4 linked regions of the Homo sapiens genome follow. The protein of the gene in region 1 purifies or fractionates together with the protein of each later gene. This does not show direct contact. Each region holds a gene or a part of one and is shown on either strand. Other genes may lie near its edges. The genes, in order: SRP9, LYAR, MTHFD2L and MTHFD2.

Evidence for each region.
Region 2: the proteins of SRP9 (region 1) and LYAR purify together in Homo sapiens (co-immunoprecipitation; 2 studies listed by BioGRID and IntAct, with this or other methods). This does not show direct contact.
Region 3: the proteins of SRP9 (region 1) and MTHFD2L purify together in Homo sapiens (affinity purification with mass spectrometry; 2 studies listed by BioGRID and IntAct, with this or other methods). This does not show direct contact.
Region 4: the proteins of SRP9 (region 1) and MTHFD2 purify together in Homo sapiens (co-immunoprecipitation; 3 studies listed by BioGRID and IntAct, with this or other methods). This does not show direct contact.

What each region holds. Positions count from the first base shown.
Region 1 is NC_000001.11:225,773,709-225,780,847, reverse strand, and holds the start of SRP9 (signal recognition particle 9 kDa protein), read right to left. Parts: upstream 3,023-7,139; 5' UTR 2,908-3,022; coding exon 2,836-2,907; intron 1-2,835. UniProt on the Homo sapiens protein: Component of the signal recognition particle (SRP) complex, a ribonucleoprotein complex that mediates the cotranslational targeting of secretory and membrane proteins to the endoplasmic reticulum (ER).
Region 2 is NC_000004.12:4,280,153-4,287,178, reverse strand, and holds part of LYAR (cell growth-regulating nucleolar protein), read left to right. Parts: intron 1-606; 5' UTR 607-660; intron 661-3,383; 5' UTR 3,384-3,436; coding exon 3,437-3,558; intron 3,559-5,281; coding exon 5,282-5,396; intron 5,397-7,026. UniProt on the Homo sapiens protein: Plays a role in the maintenance of the appropriate processing of 47S/45S pre-rRNA to 32S/30S pre-rRNAs and their subsequent processing to produce 18S and 28S rRNAs. Also acts at the level of transcription regulation.
Region 3 is NC_000004.12:74,161,095-74,168,120, forward strand, and holds part of MTHFD2L (bifunctional methylenetetrahydrofolate dehydrogenase/cyclohydrolase 2, mitochondrial), read left to right. Parts: exon of another isoform or gene 1-685; coding exon of another isoform or gene 686-733; exon of another isoform or gene 734-1,159; intron 1,160-7,026. UniProt on the Homo sapiens protein: Bifunctional mitochondrial folate-interconverting enzyme that has both NAD/NADP-dependent methylenetetrahydrofolate dehydrogenase and methenyltetrahydrofolate cyclohydrolase activities.
Region 4 is NC_000002.12:74,201,589-74,208,614, reverse strand, and holds part of MTHFD2 (bifunctional methylenetetrahydrofolate dehydrogenase/cyclohydrolase, mitochondrial isoform A precursor), read right to left. Parts: intron 2,911-7,026; coding exon 2,726-2,910; intron 912-2,725; coding exon 789-911; intron 47-788; coding exon 1-46. UniProt on the Homo sapiens protein: Although its dehydrogenase activity is NAD-specific, it can also utilize NADP at a reduced efficiency.

The sequences.
Region 1 (7,139 bases):
TCCAGTGGTAATGCCATCTTCAATTACAGCAATACAAGACAGAGTGGTAAAAAGATACTGGGTATAATCAACAGGTTAAATGTGTTGCGGAGAGAAGACAGAGAATTTTGGAAAACAGATTCCAGAGACCTGACAAAATTTGTTCTTTAGCCCTAGCAGAAAGAGAATGGACTTGGGGTTCAAAGATCTGGGTCCAAATTTCATCTTAATCTCTCAAGAAACTAGGTATATCACTTAACAGATATAAAATCATTCATTTATATACTTTGATGGGTTGCTGTAATTGTTCATATATTATGTATAAATCTATGTAAACACACATAAATATATATTAAATGCCTGTAACATATAAACATATGTAAAATGCCTGTCACGTAGAGGCGGAGGTTGCAGTGAGCCAAGATGGCGCCACTGCCCTCCAGCCTGGGCAACAAGAACAAAACTCCATCTTGGAAAACAAACAAACAAAAAAAACTGTTAAGCTCTTCCTCTACACTCATCCTCTCCCCTCTCAACATATCAGTCAAGCCAGGCGCCATGGCTTGTGTCTGTAATCCCAGCTACTTGGGAAGCTGAGGCAGGAGAATCACCTGAGGCAAGGATTTAAGACCAACCTGGGCAACAAAGCAAGAGCCCCGTCTTTAAAAAAAAAAAAAAAAAAAAAAAAAATTAGGCAGGCATGGTGGCATGTCTGTAGTCTCAGCTACTCAGGAGGCTGAGGTGGGAGGATCACTCGAGCCCAGTTCAATGGTGCAGCGAACTGTGATTTGTGCCACTGCACTCCAGCCTGTGCCAACTGCAATTTTCTGACTGGGTAAGAGGTGAAATATTCTCTTTCTTGTCTATTCTAGACATGCTTTGCTCACAGTGATGCTCTAATTATTTTCATTTTCCCTACCACTGCCATCACATTCTTACAGTACAGTTACTCTTGATGTGAATTTATATATTCTTTACTGTTGTCTCAAGTATTTTTAGTTTATACTGTGGGTACTTCTGGATAAAAGTCCTGTGTGGTCTCAGAGTAGCATTGTCTGAATGAAGAAACAAATGACCCTGCCAACAAGGGAAGCTAACCAAATGAAGCAACCAGAAGTCACCAGTGTTATAAACAAATTACTCAATTTAAAAAATACAATTTCCATCATTTATTATTGTATCATTTTATTGTAAAAAATAGAAGTATGTTTTACAGCTTGTTACTTAGCTAGGTCTTTCTGTGGGTCTAATACTATTTTTAATCATAATTATCAACATTTCTTGCTGCACACTTTAAACTTATATGCACTATAAACTGTATGTGGCATTGGAGTTACAGGTTACCAGCTCACTGCATACACTTAAAACATAATTCATATTACTTAATGATCATCAATAGTTTCACACAGTAAATCCTGAGCCCTGGGCTGGGCGCAGTGGCTCACACCTGTAATCCCAACACTTTGGGAGGCCAACGCGGGTGGATCACGAGGTCAGGAGTTCCAGACCAGCCTGGCCAAGATGGTGAAACCCCGCCTCTATTAAAAATACAAAAAATTAGCCAGGTGTGGTGGCAGGCGCCTGTAAACCTAGCTACTCGGGAAGCTGAGGCAGGAGAACCGTTTGAACCCAGGAAGTGGAGGTTGCAGCGAGCTGAGATTGAGCCATTGCACTCCAGTCCGGGCGACAGTGCGAGATTTCGTCTCAAAAAAAATAAAACTATTGAAAAAAAAAAAAAAAGATCCTGAGCCCCGGTTTTCCGAGATTTTATCTGCTTTTAATTTTCTTTCTTCTCCGAGGGATACAGTCACAATACACTGGATCTATAATACCCTCCAATAATACCAGCTCCTTAAGGGTTGAACGGAATCTCATTCACCTTTGTGTCTCCCACAGAACCTAATTTAACTTGGGGTCAGTAACACGAGAGTGGGAAATGAATGCAGCATAAAAGAGATAACTGAGTTACAACAAACACAAAACAAAAGAAGCATCATACATAACCAGGTCTGAGGTTTTCAGTATAAAATCCCTTCAATATGCTGAGTTCTAAAAAGAAGCAGAACTTTTAATTAACACGAAGATGCTTCAAATAATTCTTAGACATGACAATAAAATAACCAAAACCTCAAGAGACGAAAAGTAAGACCCGAATGCTAAACTCCCATCACTTGGACTCCTTTGCTTTTTAATAATGAGCTAACCTCTGACATCCACCTCCATTATAATTTTTGTGGGGGCTAAGAATGTATTTCAGAGGTCCATGAATCCCTTAAAATTGTTTGCAAACATTTACTTATACATTTACTTATACCATTTTTCTGAGGAAAGGTGCAAATATTATTCTTATGGTCCCAAAGCCTGTGACTCCCAAAATACTAAGAACCAATATTCTGGGGGGTACAGATGCTTCCAAATTGGAATCTTTCAAGAATGTCTGAGCGGTAGTAGAAAAAACATCATCAGTTTTATATACATGAGGTACCCTTACCGCCTAGGCGGTACAGGAAAAGTGAACCAAGACAAAGGACAGGAAGCTGCAGGGGGAGGAGCCCTGGCTTCAGGGACTCGTAAAACAACCGAAGCCATAAAGGAAGCTGAGGGACTGGGGCGGGAAGATCGATTGCAGAAATGTTTAGGGCTGAGATGAACCTGGCTGTTGCCAGCTTCAGGGCCTCACTGGGCCGCTAGATCAGGGAAGAAGGGGACGAGAGAGCAGAACATTAACTTGGCAGGGTCCATTTGTGTTCATTCCCAGCACCTCCTGGGAGCGCTGGGGAAGCTCCAGGGGCCGAGTGGATGGCGGGAAGACATCCTGGGCTGGGGCCCAAAGCAGCGGCCCCGCCAGCGATTTACCTTCATAGGGTCAGCGAGGTAAAGCTTCTCGGCAGCGCGGCTGAACTCCTCCCAGGTCTGGTACTGCGGCATCGTGGCCTAGAGTGGAAAAGTAAAGAGAAGCAAGGCCTCAGAACCCGGCCCAACAAACTACCTACGTCCGGGAGTCGCCAACCGACGCGAGTCCCAGCAGCCCCAAGATGGCGGCGCCTCCTCGCACCAACGCCTCGCTCCATTGGACAGCCCCGTCCATGCTCGCCCAATGGGCAGGAGGGATGTTGTCAGGGAGTGGGCGGAGCCCAGGGCGTGTGGCTCGAGAGCTGAGCGAGACAAGCGGAGGGCACGGCAACCAATGCCGGCTGCCACAGCGCCCCCGGTAGGGCTGAATGAGTGGCGTCCGTCCCGTGGCCCTCAGGGCTGAACCGCAGCTGCCTTCAACAAAGATTAAGCGGCTCTGCGATAGTCGCTGCATATACGAGGAAGGAGGCGACAGGGCCCAGCTGTCACACAGCTTGGTGAAGAAGCCAGGAGACATAAACACAAGAGTGCAACGGAAAACTTTATATGATAAACATTTATGTCGGGTTAGTGGAGCGCGAAGGAAGAAGGATCTCTTGTGGGTGGGGGGAGACTCACAGAAGCGGTGCAAGCTCAACAGGTAGGCAAGGAAGGGCAGAACACGTAGGCCCATTTTAGATCTGCAGTGTATGTCAGATGACTGGTGTTTAGGAGATGAGGAAGAAGCCATATTATCACTTCTGCAAGGATAAAAAATCTGATCCTCCAAGCAGGAGGATCGCTTGAGCCCGGGAGTCCGAGGCTGCAGTGAGCCATGATCGCGCTACGCACCCAGCCTGGGCTTCAGAGGAAGACGCTGGCGCAAAAGTAAATAAATAAAGAAGATGGCCTGCAGGGGACACCAGGTAAAGGGTATTATATTTTGAGATGGAAAGATTTTGTGCATGTTTATAACTTTTAGAGAAGGACACATAAGAGATAGAAAAATAAAAAATACAAGAGAAAGAAGAAAGCGAGGTCTCGGGAAATATGAAGGGGAAGACCAAAGGCCCAGATGAATAAAAACAGGTGCATTATTGCCTTTGATGGGGTGAGGAGGAGGGAAAAGTCGGGTGAGGGTATAGGTGAGCATGTAGATACGAGGGCAAGAAGGTACATTTTCTTGTCACCTAAGACAGGAGACCACCTTCGTAAATAGGAAGGGTGGTTTTGGATCTTTGAGGAAGCAAGGATGGGTTTGGATCCTTGAGGAGAAGGTTTGGAAAAGCCATTGTGAGAAATGAATAAGGAAGCCTATTAGAAAAAAACAGGTGGGAAGCGGTGGTGCACACCTGCAATCCCAGCACTCTGGGAGGCTGAGGTGGGCAGATCACTTGAAGTCAGGAGTTCAAGACCACCCTGGTCAACATCGTGAAACCCCATCTCTACTAAAAATAAAAAAATTAGTTGGGCTTGGTCGTGGGTGCCTGTAATCCCAGCTACTCTACTCGGGAGGCTGAGGTAGGAGAATCTCTTGAACCCAGGAGATGGAGGATGTAGTGAGCCAAGATCGCATATCACTGCACTCCAGCCTGGGCAACAGAGCAAGACTCTGTCTCTAAAACAACAACAACAACAACAACAAAAAAAGAAACTCAAAAGCAATATGTCAAGTAGAGTAAAAAGCTGAAACTGGAGATCATATCTGGGAATAGCCCCAATTAGGGTCTGTCTCCAGCAACACCCAGAAGCTTGGATTTTGGACTGGAAAAGACAGATATTAGGGATTTATAGGGTACATGAGGAAGAAGAACAAAGGGTCAAGAATGTTGTAGGTGGTACTGGCAAGAGAATGATTGAAATGATAAATTATGGGATCCATGCTAGATAGCTGGTAATTAATTGAGTCAAAAGAGAGAAGTTAAGGAACCAGGATTAAAGGAAATCTGAATTCAATATAGCAGGAAATAAGTTTTAGTCAGATTGGATATTGGGGTTTAACATTTTAGAGTAGCAATAGTCCCTGGTGAGGCTGGATTTATAGTTGGGTTGTCCACACAAAGTCAAAGTCTTCTATGAGTAAGAAAAGGAATAAGATGAAGGAGAAGGCTATGAGCCAGGGACCCAAATCCTCATTTAATGAGACACGTGTGTGTGTGTGTGTGTGTGTGTGTGTGTGTTGAGGGAAGCTATAAAGAGCAATGAGCAGAGGCAGAGAGGGCAGAGTTGGGCAGAATGACCCCCAGGTGTAGGGGTTTTTCCCTGAAGATGAAAACAATGGAAGTTAAGACAATGCCAACTTTGCCTTCTGTCACAAGGAACATAAGAGATCAGTTTCAATTCAATTCAGCAAAAAGTAAAACAAGTGTCCACCCTGGACAAACACCAGGAGCTGGGCTAGGCATTAGAGACCCAGCAGTGAACAAGACAGGCCCAGTCCCTGCCTCATAGAGCTCACAGTTATGGAGAGAATGACAGTAAAGAACAGATCTCCATTGTGAGGGTCCCCATCACTGTGAGTTCCAGCATCTCCAAGCTTAGCCCAGCCTCAGCCCCTACAGAGGCAGAGAAATCAAGATAAGGAAGAAGTTATGGGAATTGCCCTTGATTATGCAAATGTCCCCAGTCACACTAGGATGCATTCTTTTTTTAAAAATTTAATTTTAGGTTCGGGGGTACATGTGCATGTTTGTTACATGGGTATATTGCATACTGGTGGGCATTAGGTTTCTAGTGTACCCATCACCCAAATAGTGAGCATTGTACCCAATTGGTACCTTTTTAACCCTTTCCATCTTCCCACCCTCCCCCTTTTGGAGTCACCAGTGTCCATTATTTCCATCTTTATGTTGATGTGTACCCGTATTCGTCCATTCTCATACTGTTATAAAGAACTACCTGAGACTGGGTAATTTATGAAGAAAAGAGGTTTAATTGAACTCACAGTTCTGCAGGCTGTACAGGAGGCATGACTGGGGAGGCCTCAGGAAACTTAACAATCCTGGCAGAAGGGCCAAATCAAGTGCTTGGAAGCCAGCACTTCTTCACGTGGCAGCAGGAGAGAGAGAGAGAGAAGGGGGAAGTGCTACACAATTTTAAACAACTAGATCTTGTGAGAACTCACTCACTATCACAAGAACAGCAAGGGGGAAATCCACCCCCATGATCCAATCACCTCCCACCAGGTCCCTCCCCCAACACTGGGAATTAGAGTTCAACATGAGATTTGGGTGGGGACACAGAGCCAAGCCACATGAGTGCCCATTGTTTAGCTCCCACTTATAAGTGAGAGCATGCTGTATCTGGTTTTCTGTTTCTACGTTCGTTGACAGGATAATGGCCTTCAGCTCTATCCATGTTGCTACAAAGGACATGATTTCATTCTTTTTTTTTTTTTATGGCTGCTGGATGCATCCTTTAAACTAGGTTATTCCTTTCCTGCTGTGGCTTCTGAAAGGCTATCAGAGAGTGTCCTTTATAAATTGCTCACACATGCACAATGTCAGAAAAGGAAAAATTCCTTTCATTCCCAGTCAAGAAGATCAGGGCCTCTGTACCCTTTGTGGTTATCCTTTCTGCTTCATTTTCACACACATATCTTATTTGAGCTTTCAAACAACTCTGCCAGGGTGGTCAGTGAGCCTTATTACAATTCCAAAAATCTGAAAAGCTCTGGAAAACAAAAGTATCTTGGTAACTCCATTAGTAGAAAATGACCTGACCTCAAGTAAGGTTGCTTAGTCTTTATTTGTTTCACTTGGTGTGTTTGGTTCCAGGGTGGGGCACAGACCCTGCTGGTGGTATTATGTAATATACCACATGTGCACTGTATCACCTTTCTAGGATCCAAAAGGCTGTGAATTCTGAAATACGGGTGGCCTCAAGGATTTCGGACAAGGGATTATAGTCCTGTGCCACTCTCCTTTACAGGTGATGAAGAAACCAAACCTGAAAAATAAGTGACACTAAACAGATTGGCCCCAGACTTTGCTCCGGATTGTCCAGCAAATGGCAAAAGCCAGTGGATGTTAATCATAACCGGAAGTGACAGGATTAATTTTGATTTTTAGAAAGTGTAACTAGTAGAAATACAGAAGCTAGATCGGTAAAGCAGAGCCTGGGTGCAGGGTCAAAACCAAAAGCCCTTGCACTTTTCCTTATGTTCACCACCTCCCGCGATTGTGTTCATGTCTTTGCCTCCCATTCCTGATCCCATTTCTGATCCCATTTCCCATCCCATTTCCACTGTATCTACCCTCTCACCCCAAAGTTGCTTTCATGGGTTCACCAGCTGACTATTATATTACCCACTCCAGCAGACATCTCTC
Region 2 (7,026 bases), on another chromosome or scaffold:
TTGGGCAGAGGGAGTTGGGGAGCCAGGGAAGGAAAAGAGGACTCTATTTAGATCCAGCCCCATGAAAAAACTGCTGTCTTTTTACACTTAGGGCTAGATGTTGAAATCTGTCACATCTGAGCCCGGCAGACTGGGTGTCCTCAAAATCTTAATGCAGTTTTAAGCTTTCATAATTTCAGAAGCATAAATGATCCAAACTTGCCAAAACATCATTTAAAATTTAATTAAGGCCGGGCGCGGTGGCTCACGCCTGTAATCCCAGCACTTTGGGAGGCCGAGGCAGGCGGATCACGAGGTCAGGAGATTGAGACCATCCTGGCTAACACGGTGAAACCCCATCTATCTCTACTAAAAAATACAAAAAATAAGCTGGGCGTGGTGGCGGATGCCTGTAATCCCAGCTACTCGGGAGGCTGAGGCAAGAGAATGGCATGAACCCGGGAGGCGGAGCTTGCAGTGAGCCAAGAATGCACCACTGCACTCCAGCCTGGGCGACAAAGCGAGACTCCTTTCTCAAAAAAAAAAAAAAAAAGTTTAATTAAATTTCCTTCATGCTTATCTAGTCTTGTGGAATTTGAACAATACCGTTTTACTTTTTTGTTTTAGGCAATGTTTGCTGTCTTCCATTGGAGTGACTGAATTTCTACATGACGGCTTTTTGTAAGTTTGTAGTATTTACATTTTTGTTTTAGGCAATGTTTGCTGTCTTCCATTAGAGGGACTGAATTTCCACCTGACGGCTTTTTGTAAGTTTGTAGCATTTACGCTTACGAATATTAAGCCTGCACTAAGACCTGGGACACCCTGTCTGCTGTGCAGTTAGGCTGACTTTGAAGCTTCTGATGGTTTTGAGCTTTTCTTTGAAGCCCAAGCAAGTGTTTATGGCATAAATTACAGGTATTTTCGCCTGGGGCTAGGTTGGGTTTGAGGTGTAATCAAGGTGCTGGACTGTCCTCCAGGCTCTGAATAAAGGAGAGGTAAGCTCCTTACAGACATTAGCTCATTAGCCAAGCAAGTGGACACAGAGCTGTTCCCATTTCATGGCAAGTGTAAAAATCCGGAGGAAGGCAGGAAGAGACAGTTCTGACTTCCTGTGCAATCCACCCATTTGGCCTTAAACAAGTAAAGACCAAATGAAAATGATGTGAGAGTTATTTTTTAGCTGGACATGTAACCAGATTCTAATCACCTTCTGAATTGATATTTAATTACACTGTAGTGTGTAGCCGATCTCCAGAGAGATAGAATGTTTGGCACAGTTACTCTTGAGTATCTTTTTGTCAACATCACTGCTTTCACTGCTTCTTTCAGTCAATATATTTTGTTTCCAGCTTCCTTCCTAGGCCTTTAATTCCTGCTGGGACAGGAATCTCTCAATTCACTCTTAAGCCTTGTCGAAACCTTTCTTCCTCCCATCTCCCACTCCATCCAGAAATAGAATTGTCCTCAGCAACAGAGGTTGGCAAGCTCTAAGCCGTATCTAAGTTTCAGAGACTGTTTTTTGTTGTTGTATCTTATTAGAAAAGTGCTTTAACGTTTTTCAGCAGATAATTTGGCATATCACGGCTGCTTTCACCTTGTGCCTGTGATGACAATCTATTTCTTGGTGACTAATAAGTTATTCCTGCTCTTACACCAAAGTGCACCTCCATGCTCTTTGAGAATGTGATGTTGGCTCTTATTCCAGCCTTTGTTCTCCCTTGTCAGGCAGGATAGCTGCTCTTGTTGCCTGACATGTTGATCATCCCTCTGCCTTTTTTTAGAATGGTAAGCTTTGAGGGAGCTGGGTTGTGGGAAACGTGATTCCAGCTCCCAGGAGCTTGACAATATCACACATCTTTACAGTAAGCAGATGAGAAGATGACAGTTGCTGCAGCACATCGAGGGTAGTCATGTTTTCCTTCCTGAGGATTTGGTGCTAGGTTGTAGCTGACCACATGCTGTCCGTTTACTAACATACACTGATAGTGAGCTGAGGAGCGGGGCCTGGGACCGCGGAATCAGGGGTCTGTGGTTTGTATGTAGCGTAGAAGCTGAGCTGATGTCTGATAGTGTCCCACAGGGCAAGAGGCCTCCACAAGAGACCAGCTGGACCTTTGTGAACCCTGGAGATGCAGCCAGGATGTACATTTCCATTCAAGGCTGAATGGACATGAATAACCTTGGTCGTTGCTTGGGTGTGGCCTCACTGGCAGTGATCCAAAACATGCTGGTGGAGGAGCAACGGTGATTTCATGCATGGGAATTCTCTGCAAACCAAGGGTAGATCATTTGTACTGAAAGCTTGTTGGATGAAGTCCTACCCTGAAGTAAATTGCATCGGTTTACTTGACCCTCACCTTTATTTTCCTAATGAGGAAGAAAGCTCTGGGTTAAACAGTTCTCAGTATTTTTGCTGTAAAACTTATAATGTAAAACAACAATGCTGTTTTAAAATCTAGTGATTAAAAATTATGTAAGTATGGAAAATTACTGTGACTTCTCTAACACTTCTAGACGAATTTGTGTTTTCCTGAGCACGGTAGCATTTCTGTGAAATTTTACAATGATGTTTATGTGCGTGTGCAGACATACTTCTTTTTGGGGCAGTGCTCGGGACACCTGGGTTTGTGAACTCCAGTAATTCAGCACCCAGCAGTTGGGACACCTGGACTTGGTTCCGTTTCTTTCTGACTTGTCTGACAAGCTGCCACATGAAGAAGGCCCCTGTCCATTACAGCTGAGGCGCATGTCCTCATTTTAACCTTTGTAGATATATAGTAATATTGATATGAATGCTTTTAGTGCCATAGAAATTGTGCCCATAGAATTGCCTCTTCTTCACTTTCTAAACTTCACTCAGTTTTCCTCTTGCTGTGTTCTTAGTATATTTGAGGACCTGAAATAGTTTGTAGTGTACACCTAAATTGCAATGCCTTCTATAAGTTTCATATACAGAGAGAGAGTTTAAGGTATTATGGAAAGTAAGATTTAACACCCTCAAAGCTCTTCATCTTGAGAGCCAATCTGCCAGGTTTAAATCCTGGTTCTGTTAACCGTGTATCCTTGGGCAAGTTATGTAATCTCTGTGTCTCAGTTACCTCATATAAATTTTGAACAATAATAGTCCTTCCCTCATAGGGTTACTGCGGGGATTGAATAAGTGAATAAATGTAAAGCCTCTAGAATAGTGCCTGGCACGTGGTAAGGACACAATAAATGTTAGCCATTCTCATTGTTAATGTTAGTTTTACTTATATGAATGGTGGAATTTTATGTAGATTGCTAATCAACTTTGACTCTGTTATTTTCATGTGAAATTATGGTTGAAAAGTTAGGGGCATGAGCCATTTATTGAAATGAGAAGTTTCAGTTTATAATTATAATTGTCTTTTTTTCCTTAGGACAAGACTTAAAACCTGTCTTGGATAGAGAATATTTAGCCATTTACCTAAAAATGGTATTTTTTACATGCAATGCATGTGGTGAATCAGTGAAGAAAATACAAGTGGAAAAGCATGTGTCTGTTTGCAGAAACTGTGAATGCCTTTCTTGCATTGACTGCGGTAAAGATTTCTGGTAAGCTTCACAGAATTCATGTAGATCCATAGTAAATCCAGATCAGTTTTGGAAGCCTTGGCGCCACAAAGCTTGGAAAAATAGTGGCAAATTTGAAGAATGAAATTAAGACTAAAAACTGGTATGTTCCATTGATTAAAACTGGTGTGATTCTTTCAAATGTGCTTTACTAGGCCGGGCGCAGTGGCTCAGGCCTGTAATCCCAGCACTTTGGGAGGCCAAGGTGGGTGGCTCATGAGGTCAGGAGTTGAAGACCAGCCTGGCCAACATAGTGAAACCCTGTCTCTACTAAAAATACAAAAATTAGTCAGGCGTGGTGGTGGGCGCCTGTAATCCCAGCTACTCGGGAGGCTGAGGCAGGAGAATCGCTTGAACCCAGGAGGCAGAGGTTGCGGTGAGCCGAGATTTCACCACTGCACTCCAGCCTGGGCAACAGAGCAAGTTAACCCCTTCTTGGGGGGGAGAAATGTGCTTTACGAAACAATTTGCTTTTTGAGGATATGTTAAAGAAAAGACTAGGGGAAGGGGAATTATGATGATTAGAGTGTTCAGTCAGTTGGTGACACTGGTTGCTATTGCATTGCCACTGTTTACAGACCCAGGGAACTAACTGCGTGGAAGATGGCTCCAGGGGTTTAGAGCCAGTTTCATTAGACCATGGGTATCACATGCCCATCACAGTGGAGAGATGGACTTATGAACCAGAAAGTGAATTTATGAGCTCACAGTGGGGCAGATGACTGGTAGCAGAGGAAACTATGTCCTCCCTAGAAAATCAGAGGTGCTGGTGGAAGTGAGGCTCTTCCTGGCCCCACGGGTGTGTCAGGAGACACTTCCACTGAGGAGGCCTCTGTGAATGTGAGGAGTTAGCGGGGAGGGACAGGACAGATCCTGCCTTAGACACCGGTTCTTCAGGTGGGTCGTTTGCAGAGGGCTCCCCTCTTGAATTTCATGTTGATTCCCCTTCAGCCTCAGAAGGTCCAGGCGAGAAGCTGGCTTCTGGCTGCATCTGCCCCAGTGTCCTCTGAGGCATTCGGATGGTACTGGCTAATACTCTCTTTTAATTCATTCTGGAGCAGTGATTTTTTTTGGAAACTGCTAACCTCTGTTCAGACGTAATCCTAGGAGGAAGCTTGATATATAAAGTAGGTTAAAATTGAGTTTTCATTAGGGGACTTTGCCCTGGACCTTGTCCCCAACATTTCCCTGAAGAACCCCATAGAGCTTTACAAAGATTATATGAGAGAGAATTTAGTTTTCTTTTTTCTCAGGACCCTAAGGGATCCAGAACTGTTGGTAACCTCATGCTGCCATTTTATATCTGTTTTTGATTTATTCTACAACTAATTATTGACTGTCTATTAGACATTGAGATTTTTATAATTTAAAAAAACTACCCTATTGCATAGAACTATTTTCTTGTTTATTCAGTATATGTACACTTATGACTTAAAAAAATACTGCCTATCAATTTAGCTTAAGGTGTTTATAAAAATGGGGGAAAAGTTTGGTGATGGGTTTTATATTGACGACTTTGGAGGAAGGGGGATGTGGTTCTGACCAGGAGGCTGTAAACATAATAAGTGAAATAGATGGGGTGCTTGTGTGATAGACACATGTGAAAATATACAGTGTAGACCACAGAAGATAGTGGCAGCATGCTGGTATTAGCGCCTCCAACTTGGGTATCAGTCTAATGGCAGAACTTTTGATCACTTTAAAGGGGCGATGACTATAAAAACCACGTGAAATGCATAAGTGAAGATCAGAAGTATGGTGGCAAAGGCTATGAAGGTAAAACCCACAAAGGCGACATCAAACAGCAGGCGTGGATTCAGGTAACGTCTCTCTAACTCATTGAGTAGCTTCCTCTGACAGCTTCCGCTTTCTTTGGAAGCCCAAGAGACTAAGAGTAAATGTGTCATCCCTGCAGACAAGCTCTGGAAACCTCATGTCCTAGGATAGACAGGTTGAACTAAAACCTCTTGAAAAAGAATTCTTTGGCTGGGCATGGTGGCTCACGCCTGTAATCCCAGCACTTTGGGAGGCCAAGGCAGGCGAGTCACGAGGTCAGGAGTTCAAGACCTGCCTAGACAACGTGGTGAAACCCCATCTCTACTAAAAATACAAAAAATTAGCCGGGCATAGTGGCGGGTGCCTGTAATCCCAGCTACTCAGGAGGCTGAGGCAGGAGAATCGCTTGAAGCCAGGAGGCAGAGGTTGCAGTGAGCCGAGGTTGTACTGGGTGACAGAGTGAGACTCCGTCTCAAAAAAAAAGAAAAAGAAAAGAAAGAAAAAAAGTTCTTTATTCTTCTAGCTGTTAAAACAGTTGCGGTGCATTATACCTTTAATCCATGTGTTTTGTTAATTTCTTGAAAAAAAAGTTTTAGAATTCTCATTAGCTTTCCCTTGGCTGTAAAACTAAATGGAAGCTTCTAATCTCTCCCTGCTTCTAGTGATAATGGAGCTTTTATAACTCAAGCCATGTTAATCTGTCACATCTGCCAGTCATTAGAATTAGGCAAAATAAAGATACTTTCGTCAATGCAGAGAATTTTCTACTTAACTAAAACAGCATGAAAACATGCACAGTAGAAATGGCAGAAACATTGACTCCCTAATTCACTGGGAAGTATAACTCTCAGAATGCTACTGATCATTTACAGAATAGGTAGCAGGAGGAAGGATTCAGAAAGGAAGGTGGGATAATGAAAAGACGGATGTCATCTATTGAAAATTCTGTGTTTTTCTAAAAACCAATAAAAAGTAATCGTTCCATTTGATAATAGAGTTGGAACGTGAATTTTTCAGACATTAACTAGCTTACTGAATGAGCATACTACTGGGAGGGTATTTCTGTTCACAAAGGACTTACTAGAGCAGATTGAGAAGCTAATGAAATCCTGTTTGCACTGGTGACCAGCAGCCACACTTTTGAGCACTCTCTGTAATTCTCTAAAAACCAGATGACGTTCCTAGACCCTAAGGTTGAGGTGCATGGGTCTGTGAGTTCCGTCTCTGCTGCTGTCACACTCGATGAAATCCTCTGAAGCAGGGGTCAGCAAACTACAGAAACTTATTACAGCTTTGTAATAAGTTTTGAAATCAGAAAATATGAGATCTGCATTTTTGTTGTTCTTTTCAAGATTGTTTTGGCTATTTGGTATCTTTTGAGATTCCCTGTGAGTTTTAGGATGGATTTTTCTGTTTCTGTAAAAACGTATATATACACACACATTGGATTTTGATAGGAATTGTATTGAATCTGTAGATTGCTTGGGTAGTATTAACATCTTAACAACTTTAAGTCTCCCAGTCCATGAGTACGGAATGTTTTTCATTTATTTGTGTCTACTTTAATTTCTTTCAGCAGTGTTTTTTGGTTTTCAGTAAACAAGTCTTTTGCCTCTTCAGTTAAGTTTATTCCTGATTATTCTTTTTGATGCTGTTGCAAATGGAATTGTTTTC
Region 3 (7,026 bases), on another chromosome or scaffold:
GTCTTTATGGAAGTTTCACCTTTCTTTGTGTCGCACTGGCATCGGCTGTATAATTTTTGCAGCTAGACCACATTTTAAAAAAATCTACATTTTTGGAACTAGTAAAAGATACTTATTTGTGTTATTTAAGTATTCACGTCTTTTACCGTGGGTAGTTAAGTTTAATAATTTAAAAAGACACATTTTATCAGTAACAATGTTCATTTTATTTTTCAGACTCTTCCCTCTACTACTTACTCTGTATTTCTGTCTCTTCTAATGACTAGGAAAGGCAGTTTCTCAAAATCATCTTCTATTTAGTTGGCAAATGTGATAATGTGGGTAGTGTTCCTACCTTCCTGCTGTATGTGTTCTACTGAAATGAGATATAATAGCCATCTGGCTACAATTTTGATTTCTAAGAAGTTCTTATGTCATTTTAAATTCAAAAACTAAGTGTTTCAACATTTGGTCTCTCATATCTTAAGTTTTATTTTCTTTGTTCCAGCTGTTCAGAGATAGTGTGTTCTAATATCTCCACAATCAAGATTTTTGACTAAAATGGATCAGTACATGAAAAAGAGGGACTAGTATTAATTTTAGATCTTGTTAGTTAATCATGGTCTTACTAATAATTTGGCAAGTTCTTTAATGAGCCAAATCTTTGTATTTCAAATGCCTTGAAGTTGTTATTCTTTCCTATTAGTACCCTGATGGGAGGATGAAAACAGCAGAAAGGAGCAGCACCAGATGATCTTTTCATGGGCACGTACTCTTTCAAGGAATCCCATGGAGCTCAGTGAAATTACACTTTGGCTTAGAGATAATTAAGTTGTGGAAGGAGGTTTAAGAGAGGAGCTTAGGTGAAATTTGAGCTGTAAATGAGTATGCTAAATTAAAGAAATGATTAGTAATAAATGAGATTTGCTATTAAGAAATTCACTTTGGATCTGAGACAACATTTTACATACAATGTAGAAAACTTTATGGTCAGAACAGAACACAGTCTGAACCTAAATTAACAGTAGTGTTAAAGAATTCAGGGCGGGATATTATCCAAGAAGGCCTAGCCAGCTGCTCCACTTAATGTTACATCACAAGTGGTTTCTGTGTTGCTATTGTTTTTATTAGCATTTCAATGACTGTGTCATATTACATTAAATCAATTGGCTCTAACTTACCTAACCATCTTGCTGCTTTTTATTGTCTAGTTCTTGGAAAATATGTAATAATTTACTCTCAGATTGAGGTCATGTCCTTGTCAATGTCATACCAACCAGGTTTGTTCACTGCATCATCTGAACGCTATGTAGGTTTCTATAATTAGGCTCATTAGAGTGTTCCTAGATCCAAAGACTATCTAAAGATCTAAAGATTCATAATTCTAAAGTGAGGGTGTGTGTATAGTTTACAACAGATGTTCTCTCCCCACTTTTTTTTTTTTTTTTTTTTGCTGTTTGTGATTAACTGGAACTGCAATGAATGCCATCATGCTTTTAAGGAATTCAGTTGTATTGTTGAAAAATACAATTTTCTTAATATCTAAGGAGCTCTTAGTCAGTGGTAAGCACTTTGCTGAGATTTTGCATATACAGTATGTCCTTCGATCCTCACAACAACTAAAGGAAGTAGATAGACACTATTACTATTCCCAGTTAACAGATTGAGAAATTGAGGCTTAAAGAAATTAAACTTGTCAAGTTGACACAGTAAATACATGGTGAAGACAAGGCTTGAACCCACATCATCTTTCCGGTGTTCTTCTCTACAAGCAGTTTATAATTATTGACTTATCTTACTTTTTCTTCTTTTTGAAACATTTATTAATATTAAATCTCATACAACTTTTGTGAATCTAGAAAGCTAATTTTGCATGTAAATTTTAAAATTATTTTGTTAGATTCCCTCAGTTTGAGATGTTCTTAACCTGGGACCTTATGGATAGAATTCAGAGGATCCATAAACTTGGATTGGAGGTTACTAACTTCTGATAAATTGAGCATTTTTTTTTTTCCATTGTTAGTGTTGGCAACAAATACATAATATCATCAGTACATGTGACTTGCTAATATAATTTACAGATATTTCAGTATCACAAAGTTGAGGCAGATACCACAAAACATCATCTGCACATCACTATTTTGTTATGGTAGTTAGACCTACCACTAGATCCTGTTATTTAATACTTTTAAAAAAAAGCATTTGATAATATTTCAGTAAAACTGGTTTTCCTTGTAATCTGTATTTTATATTGAATGTTTAAAAGGATTGTTCTGAGAAAGAGTCCACAGGTTTCAGCAGATAGGCCAAGAGCTTTTGTGGCACAAAGCTTAGCATCTAAGGTTCTTTCTGACAAAGTTAGTTTGAAAACAATGGATATTGTTTAGTACAGAGTCAGAAAGTTAACTAGTTAAAAAACTGGATACGAAGAAGAGTCATATATAATGAAAAGGTATTTTACTTTTTATTGATTTGCAGATGTAATTTCTAGTAAAATTACTTCAAGATGTGAATAGGGTACTTGGGGTATGAAACAAATTTTTTTAAAGAGGTCATAAACTTAACACTTGCAGGTATTCATTTATTTTAATAACACACTTCAAAAGACTCCCTATACTGGTGATTGGTTTTATTCCCTATGGAATTTTGCCCTGTTTTTGGGGGGTTTCATTTCTATTGTACAAACTCAAGACATCGAAGATATGCCCTAAGATATAAAGCAATTAAACTGTATGTTAGGGCCTGGGTAGAGCTTGGAATTGTTAATCATTCTATTAGGATTTTTCGTCTTTTTTTGTTTGTTTGTTTTGTTTTTTGTTTGAGGCAGAGTCTTGCTCTGTCACCCAGGCTGGAGTGCAATAGCACGATCTTGGCTCACTGCAAACTCTGCCTCCCGGGTTCATGCCATTCTCCTGCCTCAGTCTCCCAAGTAGCTGGGACTACAGGCGCCCGCCACCACGCCCGGCTAATTTTTTGTATTTTTAGTAGGGACGGGGTTTCACCGTGTTAGCCAGGATGCGTCTTGATCTCCTGACTTCGTGATCCGCCCGCCTCAGCCTCCCAAAGTGCTGGGATTACAGGCGTGAGCCACCATGCCTGGCCAGGTTTTTTCAACATTATAGAGATAAAATGGTTCATTGCAGCTCTAGTTGAAGTCGTGAATAAAGATGAGATTGAAACTAAGATATGGATTTGCCAAGTATACGAATTAAATAAACTCTTGATCTTGACTAGGTTTTATTTGTTGGTAAGCTACTTTTTTGTGGAAGAGTATTTTGATACATAGAAATAATCCTCCCCCTTTGTTATTTTGCTCTAGTTTATTAAATAAATCATTTGATTCTAATAAGCGTAGATAAGGTGGTTAGTTTATTTTCTGGAAGTACAAGTAAACAAGCCCATGGAAACAGCACTAAGTGCTGAAGACTTTCTGCTCTCATAATGTTTCTGGTTATCGAAATATGTCTCCATCTGTAATTTAGCAGAAACTAAGAGAAAGAGCCACTTTTGCAAACCAGCCCATGAACTTTTAGCCAAATCCTCTTATGTAATGTAAGGTCAACAAGAGAGTATTCCCATTATATAGATGAAGAAATTGCATGCCGTTGAGAGAAGCTAAGTGACTTGCCTAACTTTATTATTGCTACTAATGGTAACCCAGAGCTCTGATGCTCAGGACTTCTAATTTCAGGTGAGTAGTTTGTACTACATAGTGCTGCCCTGCTACTCACTAGCCACCACCTCCCTTCTTTAATTTTTGCCTCCTGATGAAGCCACATTTCGTGGCTAGCCCAGCAGTAGGCTGGGCTTTTGGAAGGGAGGGCACCTTTTCTTGCCTTTAGGGGAAGGTCATTTCTGCCTTTGTGGGAAACCACCTGAGCAAGTAATGACAGGGCACATCATGTAAACAATATCTAAGGGGTCAAATGGATTTTATTTTTGATATGCATTAATGGCAAGGTCACTATGTAATTTTTTTGGCCAAACTAGCACATTTTTTAGAGTAAAAAGGGGCACGAATGTAATGAAAATTATATATTTGGAATATCTATTGGCTTACAAATATATTAGTGAACTTATAGAATAGTTTCAGACCATTTTCAAAATTAACATTTTAAAAGATAATTTATATCCTTATGTGTTAAAATAAAAATTTATATTACATGAACATTCAGCATGAACAATTATTCCTGGTGCATATTCACATGCTTGAATCAGTTTCTTAGCTGTATCTTTTAACACCTTGATCCTGATAATTTTCTGAAAAAAGTTAATAAGATCTTATGCTTTGTTTATTTTTTTTGAGACAGAGTCTTTCTCTGTCACCCAGGCTGAGTGCAATGGTGTGATCTTGGCTCACTGCAACCTCCGCCTCCTGGGTTCAAGTGATTCTCCTGCCTCAACCTCCCGAGTAGCTGGGACTACAGGTGCATGCCACCACGCCCAGCTAATTTTTCTATTTTTAGTAGAGACGGGGTTTCACCATATTGGTCAGGCTGGTCTTGAACTCCTGACCTCGTGATCCACCCGCCTCGGCCCCTCAAAGTGCTGGAATTACAGGCGTGAGCCACTAGGCCCGGCCCTTGTGCTTAATTTTAAAATTAAATTTTCTGCAATTTTCTTAACAGTTGCAAATAGAATCTTTGCTTTAGACAATGGTTATTTTAGTTTTAAAGGTACTGTCTCTATAGATGCTGAAACACCACATAAACTGCTAAATGGAACAGTCTTAATTCTACATTTTGCACATTGAAATGGGAAGATATTTTAGCCTAAATATTTTCACAGGTGCTATGTTGGTGTATCTTTTCAAAGTACTTTTCTTTGACAAATATTTAGATAAAAGAAATAAGTTGTTTTTGTGTATGATTTTAAAAATAGTTTACCATATTTAGATAGGGGAAAATTAAAGTTTTTCTCAATTGTATTCCAATGTTTTACAAAATGGTAATTTATTCCAGGAAATTTTATTCAACAAAAAATATGAGTTCCATCAGAAGATTATTCTCAGACATTGAACTATTTAAAATTGCTATTATAGATGTATTTATTTACTAATTCTGCTGTATACAAAGTTCCACAAACTAGCTAGCTTGAAACAGCAGAAATCTGTTTTCACACTGGAAACAGTGGAAGGAGGCTGGAAGTCTGAAATCAAAGTATCTGTAGGCCCACACTCTGTCGACTAGCTTCTGGTTATTGCCAGCAGTCCTTGGTGTTCCTAAGGAGTTTGCAGCTGCATAACTCCAGTCTTTGCCTCTGTTGTTAAATGGTTGTCTTCCCTCTCTGTCTTCACTTCCCTTTTTATGTGTCTCTGTGTCTTCTCTTGTAAGGACAGAAATTAAAATTACTTGTGCATTGTTTGAGCTATGATTTTTTAAATTAGTTTACTTCTTCCCTTCCTTTTGAAGAGATAAGGTTTCTGTTTGTAAGCTTTGGTTTCACTGATTACAATTCACTAAAAACTTTAAATCTGAAGGTGTCCCTACTCCCATTTGGTCTGTTTGTTGAATATGTTGATTAATAATGACCAACAACTTTTGAAAAAAATGCAACAAGTGTTGCCCATCCCAGTGCCAGGCCAGCCCCCACAGACACAGCTTGTAGGCCAGTCCTTGCAGACCCAGGCTCTAGGCCTGCACTAATGCCAGGGCAGCATCCAAAGATTCCAGCTGAGCCTCTGCAGACTTAGGCATCAGGTAGAAACTCATGGACCCACACTGTAAGCCTGCCCCAGTACCAGGTCAGCTTCCATTAATTCAGGTCCAAGCCTATCCCCAGGGACCCAAACTCTGCACCCAACCCCATGGTTCTAGGTACCAGGTCTTCCCCTGCAGATCTAGGTACCAGGGCCATTCCAGAGGACCCTGGGCAAGCCTAGTCCCCACAGACTTGGGACCAGACCCATTCCAATGCCAGGCTGGTCCCCATGGACTCAGGCTCAAGACCTACCCCAGTGCCAGGATGGCCCCTATGAACCTAGGCTTCAGGTCTGTATTTGCAGACCAAGGCTCCAGGACTACTCCTATATACCCAGTTGACAGCCCACCCCAGTGGACCCATGCACCGGATTAGCCCCCTGTGAGTTGAAGCATTAGGCCCACCACCTGCTGACCTAGGCATCACCTGCCAACTAATCCAAGGGCTTTAGCAGCAAGCCCACCCATGGGCCATGCCGGATGGCCCATCAAGAATCTCTAGATCCACTGACTGGTGAAGGGCTTTCCCTGCTGAAGCCAGTTTAGAAAGACTGGAATAGGCGCCTACTTCTTCAAGCGATAGACAGCAATGAAAGGCCACAGGCTTGTGAACCATTAGGGAAACCTGGCACCACAAAAAGAACAAAATTAACAATAATTGACATAAAGAAATGGAGAGCTACAGGCTGCCTATCCAGAGAACACAGGTAGACAACTAGACAATATCAGTGATTTAAAATACTACAAAAGGGTAAAAACCAGGTACTGTGGGAGCTCACAGCAGATTCCCAGGGTACAGGGTTGGGAAAACATCACAAGAGTGTTTTATAAGCTGAGACTTGAGCAATGTGTGGGACAGACTTGGCAAAGTGGTTGGAGAGGTGAGAAAGGGAAGGAAGAGTGTTTCAGGCAGAGGGAATATTATATCTGAAGATCTGGAGAGAACATGGTGCAGTTCATGAATTAAAATATGACTGGTGTGTAGTGCGCGACTCACTAAGCACAGTGTTCTTTAACAGTGAGGCTAAAGTAGCTCATGCAGAAGTGTGTAACCCATAGGGGATTGGGATTTTAGTTAACTTTTTCCCCCAATTTCTCAGGTCAGAAATGTTAGAGTCATGTTTGCCTTCTGTTTTTCTTTTTTTCATATCCTACACCCAATCTCAGTAACTCCCAAGGGTTCCACTCTCAAAATAGATTCAGAATCAGACTACTTAGCACCTCCATGGCTACCCCTTTGCCTAACTCCCCATGATCCCTTGTTTGTTATACTACACTAGCTTCTTAGCTGGAGTCTCCACTTCTCCCCTTGATCTCATAGAGTCTATCCTTCATATTTTCACCAGTT
Region 4 (7,026 bases), on another chromosome or scaffold:
TTGTCTGGAGAAACAGCATTGCAGATCCTTCTCTCATCAATATGCTCTGAAAAAGAAATTGGCACAGTTGCCTTAAATCACCACCGCATAGTCAGCACTGCCTGACTCCAGCTTATCTGCTTCGCAAGGAAATCTATTCTTCTACAGCTTGCCTCTGAGATGTACTTCATCTGCATGGAAGGAACTCGCATAAGCAAAGCCAAACACCAATAGCAAAGCCAATATCGTCTATCACAGCTGCTTCCCTCCACTGTCCTTTGTATCAAGACCACAATACTAAATCAAGGCGTAATTGGTATTCTGAGTTGGTCTGTCCCATTTCTAATAAAATATTCACTCTTTTGAGTTTATTTTGCCTTTAAGCCAAATCCACATGAAGAACCAGGTGTATAAAGTAACAAGGCCTTTTTACCCCTCAGAAACCATTTTAGGTAGGGCATGGTAGTTCATGCCTGTAATCCCAGCACTTTGGGAAGCACAGAGTCCAAGACCAGCCCAGGCAACACAGACAGACTTTCATTTCTAGGAAAAATGTAAAAATTAGCTGGGCATGGTGGACATGCCTATAGTCCTAGCTATTTGGGAGGCTAAGGCAGGAGGATCCCTTGAACCCAGGAGCTTGAGCATGCAATGAGCTATGATTGTACCATTGCACTCTAGCCTGGGTGACAGAGTGAGACAAGGAAAGGAGAGGGAGGAGGAGGGGGATGGGGAGGGAGAGAGAGAGGGAGGGAGAGGGAAAGGAGCAGAAGCAGCAGCAATCATGTTAAATGGAGTCCAAAACTCACCTGGAAGAGGCAACTGAACAAGGAGGCCATCTACATTATCATCATTATTCAGTTTATTGATTAAATTCAACAATTCTTCCTCTGAAATTGAAGCTGGTTTCATAATTGTCTCACTGTTGATTCCTATTATAAGAAATTTTGAGGTTAAAAAAATTTTTGAGGCATTTAATGAGCACTGCTATGTTGCCTACCATACTTGGCTACCATACGGGTTTTGTATCATCACACTCATCCCTAAAAGCTGAAGTAGCTCAAGGAACCTAAAAAAGTAACTTCACAAATATATACACCAGAGAATACTAGCTTAACACATCCTGTATACCTCATTCTATGCAATCTTCATTAACCTTATTTTACAGACAGACTGAGGCTCAGAGAGGTTTAAAAATAAGCGAGCTAGGCCAGGCACAGTAGCTCACGCCTGTAATCCCAGCACTTTGGGAGGCCAAGGCCAGCGGATCACGAGGTCAGGAGATGGAGACCATCCTGGCTAACACGGTGAAAACCCGTCTCTACTAAAAATACAAAAAATTAGCCAGGCTTGGTGGAACGCGCCTGTAGTCCCAGCTACTTGGGAGGCTGAGGCAGGAGAATCGCTTGAACCTGGGAGGCGGGGGTTGCAGTGAGCTGAGATCGCACCACTGCATTCCAGCCTGCGCAACAGAGCGAGACTCCGTCTCTAAATAAATAAATAAATAAATAAGCGAGCTAATAATACAGCCAGTCTTTCTGGTTCCAAAATCCATGTTCTTTTTTTCTGCACCACACTACCTCCCAATGTCTTAAAATGCCATGGCTTGGCCAGGCACAGTGGCTCACGCCTGTAATCCCAGCACTTTGGGAGGCTGAGGCAGGCGCAGATCACCTGAGGCAGGTGGATCACCTAAGGTCGGGAGTTCGACACCAGCCTGACCAACATGGAGAAACCCCATCTCTACTAAAAATACAAAATTCGCCAGGCATGGTGGCCCATGCCTATAATCCCAGCTACTCGGTAGGCTGAGGCAGGAGAATTACTTGAACCCGGGAGGCGGAGGTTGCGGAGAGCCGAGATCACGCCGTTGCACTCCAGCCTGGGCAACAAGAGCGAAATGCCGTCTCAAAAAACAAAACAAAATGCCATGGCTTGCCATTATCTAGAGGTTTCTAAAGGCTTTCAATTAAAAGAGCAGGAGGCCTCACTCCTCAATAATAAAGAACAGAGAAAACCACAGGCTTACAGGCCAGTAACCCCACCCAGCCACGCGAGTGGTTTCACAGCCCTTCGAAGGAAAGGCCACCTGCTGCTCAGACCACAGGCCCACAGATGGGCAGGCAGAGGCATATCTGAGCCTGCCCACCCACCTCTTGTCCACAGAGACACAGTAATCTGTGGTACCGTGAGACCTAGAACACAAACCCCATCATCCAGACCTGAACTGCTTCTAAACTGCATGTTTGGCTTTAGAACCAATCGGTGAAGAACTTGAAAGCTATTTCCCAGAAGTCAGAGTCATTTCCTTCAAATCTACGACTGTGTTCCTGACCTCATCACTGAGGTCACCTAATACTGTATTGCTCAATCATGCCCCCTAAGCCTCTAAGGCTTTAAGCTGCAAACACTCAAACACCTCCACTGGAGACCCATTATTGCTCAAGGAAAGCAAATGTAAAATGCATTCAGGGTCACCTATCAAATATAAAGACTAAGAACAGAATGTAGCTTATATTCTTTCCAGAAGCCACAGAGAATACCAACCAGTATCTCCTGTCCTACTGTATAAACCCCGAAAGATATAGTCTGATTTCCTATGACAAAGTTTTGGGATACAGTTCAATCACATTAGCCTCCTCTGCTTGGGTTTCCTAATCAGAAAAAAGAAATCATAAATTAGAATGGACTTTGCCTCATATAAACCTCAACTGAACCGCAGTCGAGGTCTCAGAAGGACACATACCCACAACTGCAGCTGCCCTGGTTTTGTTGAGGACATAGGAGTGACTTGCAGGATTCTCGCCAACCAGGATCACACTCAGGTGTGGCCGTTTGTTGCCTGAGGCCACCCACTCTTCTACCTCCTGCCGCACTTCCTGCTTGATCTGCTGGGCCAGTTTCCTTCCAGAAATGACAACAGCTTCATTTCTGCAGAAGGCAACAGAGTCACAAAACCAAATAACTTGAATTTTTATAAAAACTAAAACTCTGCCAGGTGTAGTGGCTTATGCCTGTAATCCCAGCACTTCGGGAGGCCGGGGCAGGAGGATGGCTTGAGCCCAGGAGTTTGAGACTGGCCTGGGCAACATGGCAAAACCCTGTCTCTGCTAAATAAATAAATAAATGAATGAATATATCCAGCTACATATGGAGGGGGATAAAGTTGATAGAAATCATTATTATCATTAATTTGAAGCTCAGGGAGTTTAAGTGACTGACAGCGCTTGGTCAAGCTGAGTCTCACATCAGTCTGGGCTCTTAACTGCTACACCACCCTGCGCCCTGATCATTACTAAGTGTTTTACAGTTTTAATTTGCAATTGTTTGACCCCTCACCATGAGGTTAAATAGTTTTTCTTATCTGCTTATATGCCATTTGTAGTTCGTGTTTTGTCCCTGTTGTTAGCAGCCAGGCATGTATTTCAAATCATTTCCCAGTCAACTGACTTCATTTTTATGGTGGTTTAAATCGATAAATTATATTCTGTAGTTGAATAAACAAACAATATAGGCCGGGCACGATGGCTCACGTTTGTAATCCCAGCACTTTGGGAGGCCGAGGAGGGCAGATCACAAGGTAAGGAGTTCGAGACCAGCCTGGCCAACACATGAAACCCTGTCTCTACTAAAAATACAAAAATTAGCTGGGCGTAGTGGTGGGCTCCTGTAATCCCAGCTACTCAGGTGGCTGAGGCAGGAGAATCACTTGAAACCAGGAGGCAGAGGTTGCGGTGAGCTGAGATTGTGCCACTGCACTCCAGCCTCGGTGACAGAGCTAGACTCCGTCTCAAAAATAAACAAACAAACAAACAACATACTGGACAGGTCAAACATCAAAATGACCACCACTCCCCACAGTCCCTTCTGGGGAAGACTTTCCTGGTAAGAATAGGGGCAGGGCAGGGGACTGGAGGAAGCTCCTTCTCACAGTTGGCAATGTGCTCTTCCCAGGGACCCCACCATATCATCCAAAGCTGACAGACCAGGAGTGAGTATGTGACGCCAAGGGCAACAATCTCTAGGCTGGCCAGTGGTCCAGTTGGCGCAAAAGCTTAGCTCAACAGAGCAGTGAGAGTTAGTTGAACCAGTAAGAGCTCGTCCCTGAGGCAGTTCAAACTAGAACCACAGAACAAAGACAGAAAGAATAGGCAGAATAATAGTCACACCAATGGGAGACAACAGGGCAAGAAATCAGAAAACTGTTGCTGAGGTGGGGAGCAAGAAGAAAAATCAGGATCTAGAAGAACCTCCAGTTCCCAAAACCATGTTCAGCTGCCCGAAAGGCTGTCTCTTCCCAAAGAGAACTGCTTATGCAACTCTTCCTGGGTTCCATGAAACCCAAATGTGGAAGAGTCCCAGTTTTCCTATTTTCACACATGTCCTTACAGTAAAGTGCCCATTACTTAAAGATGAGCATCTGGCCCAGCGTGGTAGCTCAAGCCTGTAATCCCAGCACTTTAGGAGGCCGAGGAGGGTGGATTGCTTGAGGTCAGGAGTTCCAGACCAGCCTGGTCAACATGGCAAAACCCCGTCTCTGCTAAAAATACAAAAATTAGCCAGGCATGGTGGTGCGCGCCTATAATCCCAGCTACTCAGGAGGCTGAGGCAGGAGAATTGCTTGAACCCAGGAGGCAGAGGTTACAGTGAGCTGATATCACCCCACTGCACTCTAGCCTGGGCGACAGAGAAAGACTGCATCTCAAAAAACTAAACTAAACTAAACTAACTAAACTAAACTAAACTAAACTAAACTAAACTAAACTAAACTAAACTAAACTAAACTAAACTAGATGAGCATCTCTTCCTTAAGTAAAATGATCCCATTAAAAAAAGCCTTTCCCTTTAGATCTCTGTCCTTGGTGTCATGAAGACTGCTCTAACCTCAAGACCAATGAAGTAATCTCCTCTTATATTCTAAAACCTAACATCAAGGTACTGAATATCCTGTAGGGTCAGATAAAATTAATTCTCAAGATAACTGCTAATTTATTTATTTATTTTTTTTGAGACAGAGTCTTGCTCTGTTGCCCAGGCTGGAGCAATCTCAGCTCACTGCAGCCTCCCAAGTTCATGCAATTCTCCAGCTTTTGCCTCCATAGCTGAGAATACAGGCACCCACCACTGCACCCGGCCAGTAACTGCTAATTTAAATGGGATTTTAAAGCTTTCACAATCTTTAGGCCTTCAATAAGTGTTTTTTATTGCATTATGATTAAATACCAACTTTAAACCAAATCTCAACATCTTAGATATAATGCAATAATCTTATATATAAACTTTATCTTAATCTGTATTGCATCTTGTGAAGTATTAAATTATTATAATCTGGCCAGGCACGGTGGCTCATGCCTGTAATCCTAGCATTTTGGGAGGCCAAGGTGGGCAGATCACTTGAGGTCAGGGGTTTGAGACCAGCCTGGCCAACATGGCAAAACCCCGCCTCTACTAAAAATACAAAAATTTGCCAGGCATGGTGGCAGGACCCTGTAATTGTAATCTCAGCTACTCGGGAGCTGAGGTAGGAGAATATCTCGAACCCAGGAGGCATAGGTTGCAGTGAGCCAAGATCACGCCACTGCACTCCAGACTGTGTAACAGGGCAAGACTCCATCTCAAAAAAAGAAAAAAGTTACAATCTTACAGCAAATCAAATACTTTTACCCTGATTTTATATAATACTAGCATGGCACAACATATAATAGCATTTAATTATACCCATGGTATATGAAGAAATTGAAAACATATTAATATTCACAATTCCATTTCAGAATTAGAGTCGAAGAGGACTTCATTAAAAGGGTTTTGCAGGCCGGGCATGGTGGCTCACATCTGTAATCCCAACACTTCGGGAAGCCAAGGTAGGCAGATCATGAGGTCAGGAGATTGAGACCATCCTGGCTCATATGGTGAAACCCCGTCTCTACTAAAAATACAAAAAATTAGCCGGGCATGGTGGCACGCACCTGTAGACCCAGCTACTTGGGAGGCTGAGGCAGGAGAATCGATTGAACCCGGGAGGCAGAGGTTGCAGTGAGCAGAGACTGCCGTGAGCGGAGATCGTGCCACTGCACTCCAGCCTGGGCAACAGAGTCAGACTCCATCTCAAAAAAAAAAAATTAAAATAGGGGGGTTTTGCTGATACAAATACACCTGGCAACATTCCTCATTCCTGATTTGTATTAGTACCTGGAATGCCCACCGCAGGCCAAAAATACATTCCTAATCCTGGAACACTACAGAGTGAAAGACTACTTTAAAACGGCTTAGAACAGTCATTTATGTTGAATGAAATAACAAACATATATAATGTGCCAGGCATATATGTTCAATAAAACTAATTTCTTACTCTTTTCTCTTGGTTTTATATATATATGTATATATACACACACATACACATGTATCCTTAAAATAGATACACTTACACATAAGGAGATATATATAAGTATATACACTATATGTATATCTAGTCAGTGAGAATGACTTAGCTTGCACCTCATAAAAAGTTTCTTTTGAAAGCAGTAAACTTAGAGAAAATGGTATTAGCACATTCAGATAAAATCATATACTGAAGTTAAGGACACAGGGTTCTGGGAAAAGCCAGTGTTCCAAGTCCCAAACTTTGCTTCCAAAAGCAGGTTCTGGATGTTATGCCAATTTGCTTAAAAAAAAAAAAAGAAAAGAAAGAAAAACAGTCAAAGAGTAACAAGAACCAAAAACAAAGTCACATGCAATGAATATCTTTCATAGTATAACTGTCAGCCCTCCTCTGCTTCCCACAACTCTGCAAAATGTGAAATACAGCCTTGGGAGTGAGTCATTAACTAATTTAGCATCATCTCTTTTGCCAAGGGGCAGATTAACTGCTACCCCAAAATAAACAGGGAAATGGAGAGTCAGCTAAGTCCCACGGGGAATCCAAAATTGTAACTATATTAGCTAACATTTATCCCAGAATTAAATGCATTCACAGATGTGTTTAGAAAAAATTCCCAGGGCTGGGCATGGTGGCACAGGCCTTGTAATCCCAGCATTTTGGGAGGCCAA